2 linked regions of the Homo sapiens genome follow. The protein of the gene in region 2 interacts with the protein of the main gene of each other region in a biochemical or structural test. Each region holds a gene or a part of one and is shown on either strand. Other genes may lie near its edges.

Region 1 (2,543 bases), on a different chromosome or scaffold from region 2:
AGTCAGGAGAGGGCGTTTTCTTTGTGCTGCCAATTCTGATCATTTAAATTTTGGTTTGTTTGGGTTGTGATTTTTTTGTTTTTGAAGTCTGCGTTATTTGTAACAATTGTACTTATATTTTTCTATATCCTCTAACGCCAGAGTTTTCTTTTTCTCCCCCCTCCCCCCCACTTCTACATTCACAGTTGAACCATATTATTAGGAAAGGCGCCTTGATGAAAAGATCAGGATAGGAGCTCTGACCATTCGTCAGTGTTTTCCCTAGAGTAAAAAAAACAAAAAACAAAACCAAAAAAAAAAAACAAAACAAAACCTAAAGAGCGTCTTTCCTCTGTGTGTGTGTTTTTTTTTTTTTTTTTTTTTTTTTTTTTACATCTCTTGTGCTGCATCAGTAAACAAAACTTCGGTTAGTTTTATGAAATGCAACATCTAACCCCTTGTTTTCTGGGAAAAAGAAACTGCAATGACTTGAAGTTGAGAATGTGGATACCGCCTCACTCACACACACTCATTCTCAGACTGTAAAAAATCCCTGACCCTCCTTCTAGCTGGCAAGCATACAGTACCATGTGGCAAAGGTACAGCGAAGGTGGGCTTGAGACCCAGGCTCCATCTTTCTCCTCAGTAGCAAAGGCCAGGCTGCCTTTTACAACAAAGCACCACAGCTGAACCCAGTCCCTCCTCCTCCCCCAAACCAGGCATTCCACTCGGCACTGGCCAAAAGACAGAAAAGCTACTTCTAGCCTCTCCTGGGAAGAGATAACTTTCTTTCTTTTTTTTTAAATAAGTAACTCCATTGTTTTTCTCTTTTCCAAGATGGCCGATGTTATGGTTTTCTACGAAGTCAGTGCTTACTTAGCTCACTAACAGCGCTGCTGTTGGCGGCTGCGGCTGCTGCTGTGGCAGGATTTTCAATGTGGTGTGTTTTCAAGCCTCACTCACTCATCCTCTCATTCCCAAACATTCAGCATCCGTGCACACTCCTCACTTCCAGGTTTTTCAAAAGATGGGAGATTTCCAGTGGGGGTCCTCAGGTTATCATCCCAATGGTAACAGATCTGAAAACAGATGGAAAAAAAGGTCAATCTTTGAGATCACATATACCCAACAGAGCCAATAATGCTGACTCCTACAATTACATGCTCCTAGGCCTGAATGGAATTTGTCAACATTTCAAGGATTGACACTCTTTCTTCTTGTCCTATGTGCCATTGACCTGCTCTTATTAACACCTACATCAGAGGGTGCGAGGGAAACTCAAAGAGCCAATTTTACTGAGATCTGTGGAGTAAGATAACTAATTAAGAGTGAAAGAAATTAAAACTGTATTTCAGTCTGGGTGCAGTGGCTCAAGCCTTTAATCTCAGCACTTTGGGAGGCCAAGGAGGGAGAACTTCTTGAGGTCAGGAGTTCAAACCCAGCCTGGGCAACAGGAGATCTTGTCTCTAAAAATAAAAAAAAATTAGCCAGTCATGGAGGTGCTTGCCTGCAGTCCCAACCACCTGGGAGGCTGAGGCAGGAGGGCCACTTAAGCCCAGGAGCTGGAGGCTTCTATGAGGTGTGATTGTACCACTGCACTCCAGCCTGGGTGACAGAGGAGACTCTGTCTCCAAACAAACAAGATTGCATTTCAAAGTAGGAGCCAAGGCCTGGTGTGGTGGTGCACACCTGGGAGACCGACAAAGGTGGATCACCTGAGGTCAGGACCAGTCTGGCCAACATGGTGAAAACCCATCTCTACTAAAAATACAAAAAAAAAAAAAAAAAAAAAAAAACCTATAATTCCAGCAATTTAGGAGGCTGAGGTGGGTGGATCACCTAAAATCAGGAGTTCAAGACCAGCCTGGCAAACATGGTGAAACCCCATCTTTACTAAAAATACAAAAACTGGGCCAGGCATGGTAGCTTACGCCTGTAATCCCAGTACTTTGGGAGGCCGAGGTGGGTGGATCACGAGGTCAGGAGGTCAAGACCAGCCTGGCCAAGATGGTGAAATCCTGTTTCTACTAAAAATACAAAAAAATTAGCCAGGTGTGGTGGTGGTAGGGCACCTGTAATCCTAGCTACTCAGGAGGCTGAGGCAGAGAACTGCTTGAACCCGGGAGGCAGAGGTTGCAATAAGCTGAGATCGCACCACTGCACTCCAGCCTGGGCGACAGAGCGAGACTGTCTCCAAAAGAAAAAAAAAAAAAAAAAGAAGAAGAAAAGAAAAGAAAAAAAGAAAATTAGTCGGGTGTGGTGGCATGTGACTGTAATCCCAGCTACTCGGGAGGCTGAGACAGGAGAATTGCTCAAACCCAGGAGGCAGCAGTTGCAGTGAACCGAGATTGTGCCATTGCACTCCAGCCTGGGCGACAGTGAGACTCTGTCTCAAAAAGAAAACACACACACACACACACACACACAAAAAAACATTTGACTTTGGAAATCTTCTCTAGAGCTAGGCAACGTCTAAAAGCACTGCTGTAAAGAAAGAATAGGGCATGAGGAAAGGAATAGAAAACAGAAGAGAATTAGGGGGAAATGGCATTACTGATGATTTT
Region 2 (4,016 bases):
GGTTTTGCTTCCTCTGTCCCTGTCTCTCTCCCGCCCCCGATATACACTGATGGCCATGACCATGTAAACAACAGCTGGGTGATCCCATGACCCCATGTGGCCCGGCACTGTGTTCTCTGCCTTCTGCGCATGAACTCACTCCTCCCAACAGAGTGTCAGGGAGGGTGCTCTTGTTACCCCATGTTCCAGAGGAAGAAACTGAGGCCCAAAGAGGGACAGGCACTTGAGCTTGGTCACAGTCAGAAGGGTGGAGGGGAGTCAGCCGTCAGCCCCTCCACCAAGCTGCCACTCAGTGACCAGGCCTGTCTGCCTCTCACCCTCCAGGGTTGACAACTCCCTGTGGGTTCAGCCCGTGGCCCCAGCACACAGGCAGCGGCTCCCAACTGCCTGTTTCTCTCTGAGTCCCCCACCCCCACCACCGCGTTGTCTCTGTGCCTCTCTCTGGGGCTTTGGAGACGGACATGTCTCCTGTTGCTCCGCCCCTCCATCACTCTGCCCATCTCTGTCCCCAGCGGCCTCGGGCTATGGGACCCAGAACATTCGACTGAGCCGGGATGCCGTGAAGGACTTCGACTGCTGTTGTCTCTCCCTGCAGCCTTGCCACGATCCTGTTGTCACGTGAGCTGGGAACAGGGATGGGTAGGTCTGGGTGGGGAGAGCAAGGGAACCGCCAGGAGGAGGCTGTGTGCGTGGGTCTGGCCACCTGCACAGCCAGGGAACCCTGGATGAGCAGTTTATCCTCAGAGCCTCTGTATTCTCACATGGGACATGGGCATGATCCTAGCATCTGTTTCATAGTGTGGAACATATGGAAAGGAACATACTTCTAATGGGGTGTAGGGCTCTCAGAGCATTGCCGAGGCCATCGGAGCAGCTCACCTTTGGACACTTCCCATGACCTACCTCTGATGGTAGGGCAAAGGCTTAACAGGTGCTGAGTCCAGGCACTAAATACGTGCTCAATTAGTGGTATATTTTGTAGAAGACAGTAATTAATGATCAGGGCCCCCAAGGCCACCTTCAGGTTTCTTTTTTTTTTTTGAGACAGAGTCTTCACTTTGTTGCCCAGGCTGGAGTGCAATGGGGACATCTTGGCTCACTGATATCCCAGGCTCAGGTGATCCTCCTGCCTCAGCCCCCACGAGTAGCTGGAACCACGGGTGTGCACTACCACACCTGGCGTTTTTGTTTGTTTTTTGTAGAGAGGGGAGCTCACTTTGTTGCCCAGGCTGGTCTCGAACTCGTGGCTGCAACAATATGTGGCACACATTGTTGCTGAGAGAATGAAGCACTTTCCCTGCAGCTCTATTGGGAGAGGACAGCTGGAAGCTCAAATCTAGTCTCTACTAGATTCTGCCCCATGTGCCTTTTTCCTTTGCTGATTTTAATCTGCATCCTTTCACTGCAGTAAACTATCACCATGAGTATAACAGCTTTGCTGAGTTCTGTGAATTCTAGCAAATAATTGAACTTGGGACTGATCATGATGACTTCTGCCTATAATCCCAGCACTTCGGGAGGCCGAGGCGGGAGGATCACTTTCTTTCTTTCTCATTGCACCCTGTCTTTGCAGCCCAGATGGCTACCTGTATGAGCGTGAGGCCATCCTGGAGTACATTCTGCACCAGAAGAAGGAGATTGCCCGGCAGATGAAGGTGATGGGGATGGGGAGGAGGCGGCACACGGAGGCAGGAGCTTTTGAGTCTGAGCTCACAGGCAGAGCCACTCAGAGCCCTCTGATCTCAGTTCCCTCTGCCTGGTACACCATTCCCCTCCCCTGCTTCCGGCCAAATCCTTCTCACCGATTTCAGCCCAGATGCTGCCTCCTCTGAGCTCCTGCCAGTCCCCAGGATCTGCCCCAGTCACCTCTTCTCTTAGCACTTAGCATAGTTGTAGCTGTACATGTGGCTGTCTGACACATGCCCACTTTCCCTTATGGACTTCGAGTTTTCCCACCCTGTAGCTTAGGTCCTTAGTAAAGATATGCTAAATGGGTCGGGGGTGGTGGCTCACACCTGTAATCCCAGGACTTTGGGAGGCCGAGGCAGGCGGATCACTTGAGGTCAACAGTTAGAGGCCAGCCTGGCCAACATGGTGAAACCCTGTCTGTACTAAAAATAAAAAAATAAAAAAAAAAATTGAGCCGGGCATGGCGGGCGCCTGTAATCCCAGCTACTCAGGAAGCTGAGGCAGGAGAATCGCTTGAACCCATGAGGTAGAGGTCGCAGTGAGCTGAGATGGCACCGCTGCACTTCAGCCTGGGTAACCGAGCGAGATTCTGTTTCAAAAAAAAAAAAAAAAAAAAAGATGTGCTACGTGAATTGACATCACCTCATTTTTTCTGGGCCTCAGTTTCATCGTCTGTAAAACGGGCTGACGGCCAAATCAGAGGACACAGCAGGGCACCTGGGAGGTACACGCAGATGAGCATTCTCAAGGCGTGTTACTGGGAACCCGGCCTGGCCTTCCATGGACAAAGCCATTTGATGGGTAGGAGGGGCCCTGTTTGAGGCACAGTGGGTCTGTCCCCCTCTTCCCCTGCCTGGTTGCTGGCGCTCAGGAAACACTACAGGTCACATGCTTATTGGGCTTTTTGTCCCAAGCAGGTGGCTCCCCCTGTGCCCATGTCCTCCACACAGCCTGGTGGTCATGTCGGAGGCCCTCATGAGCATCCATCACTGTCACTGTTACCTCCTCACTCAGCTGGGTGGCCCAGGGTGGTCTGGAACTGCAGCACCGCCCAGGCAACTGCTGTGCGCCAGGCAGGGCTGAGCTCAGGTCATGGCTTCACTTCTCCCGTCCTCACTCACTGTCCGTCCATAGACATGGGCTCCTCAGCATTCCCTTAGATCTGAAGTCTACATCCCCCGTCCCAAACACGGGCTGGGGCATGCACTGTATAGAAAACTTAATTGGCCAGCAGGTGACATTAATTAAATGCTTAGCTGAGTGCCAGGTGAGGCTCTCCATGCTGTAAACACTCACCTTATGTAACCCTTCAGTGAGCCGCTGAGGTGGGTAACCACTGTTAGGCTGTTTTACAGATGAAGAAACTGAGGCCAGGAGAGGTCATAGTGCTCACTTAGGCCACAGAGTGACAGAGATGGGCTTTGAGCCCTGGCAGTCTGGCTATACAACGCAGTAAGGTTCACACCCACCCAGGGTGGCAGTTACCACCCTCTGCCACATAGTGCCTCCATCAGAGGGTCCCCTTTGTGGGCCTCAGTTTACCTACCTGTGAAATGGGAGGAAGATACCCCCAGCCCCACGGGCAGATGCTCAGCCCACTTTCCCCGACGCAGGCCTACGAGAAGCAGCGGGGCACCCGGCGCGAGGAGCAGAAGGAGCTTCAGCGGGCGGCCTCGCAGGACCATGTGCGGGGCTTCCTGGAGAAGGAGTCGGCTATCGTGAGCCGGCCCCTCAACCCTTTCACAGCCAAGGCCCTCTCGGGCACCAGCCCAGGTGACTCAGGTTGGGCTTCTTGTGGGTTGGGGGGCGGGGCGCCGCGGGCTGGGCGGGCCCAGGGGGCGGCATCTGAGTCCCTTCCTTCCCCCACAGATGATGTCCAACCTGGGCCCAGTGTGGGTCCTCCAAGTAAGGACAAGGACAAAGTGCTGCCCAGCTTCTGGATCCCGTCGCTGACGCCCGAAGCCAAGGCCACCAAGCTGGAGAAGCCGGTGAGCCCCCACAGCGCCCCGGCACGCACGGTGCCAGGGCGCCAGGGTTCCCCACCGTCCTCCTCACGCACAGGGACCACGCGCTCTCCACCTGCGCCAGCCCTGCCTACTGAGCCCGCCTCTCTCTGCCCCTTGCAGTCCCGCACGGTGACCTGCCCCATGTCAGGGAAGCCCCTGCGCATGTCGGACCTGACGCCCGTGCACTTCACACCGCTAGACAGCTCCGTGGACCGCGTGGGGCTCATCACCCGCAGCGAGCGCTACGTGTGTGCCGTGACCCGCGACAGCCTGAGCAACGCCACCCCCTGCGCTGTGCTGCGGCCCTCGTGAGTCACCTGG

The links.
Region 1: the proteins of NOSIP (region 2) and KPNB1 form a complex in vitro, tested with the Homo sapiens proteins (one study listed by BioGRID).

The regions. Positions count from the first base shown.
Region 1 is NC_000017.11:47,680,919-47,683,461, reverse strand, and holds part of KPNB1 (importin subunit beta-1), read right to left. Parts: intron 1,059-2,543; coding exon 1,058-1,058; 3' UTR 1-1,057.
Region 2 is NC_000019.10:49,556,536-49,560,551, reverse strand, and holds part of NOSIP (nitric oxide synthase-interacting protein), read left to right. Parts: intron 1-512; coding exon 513-618; intron 619-647; exon of another isoform or gene 648-1,117; intron 1,118-1,202; exon of another isoform or gene 1,203-1,573; coding exon 1,574-1,655; intron 1,656-3,302; coding exon 3,303-3,462; coding exon of another isoform or gene 3,463-3,471; intron 3,472-3,558; coding exon 3,559-3,677; intron 3,678-3,815; coding exon 3,816-4,003; intron 4,004-4,016. UniProt on the Homo sapiens protein: E3 ubiquitin-protein ligase that is essential for proper development of the forebrain, the eye, and the face. Catalyzes monoubiquitination of serine/threonine-protein phosphatase 2A (PP2A) catalytic subunit PPP2CA/PPP2CB.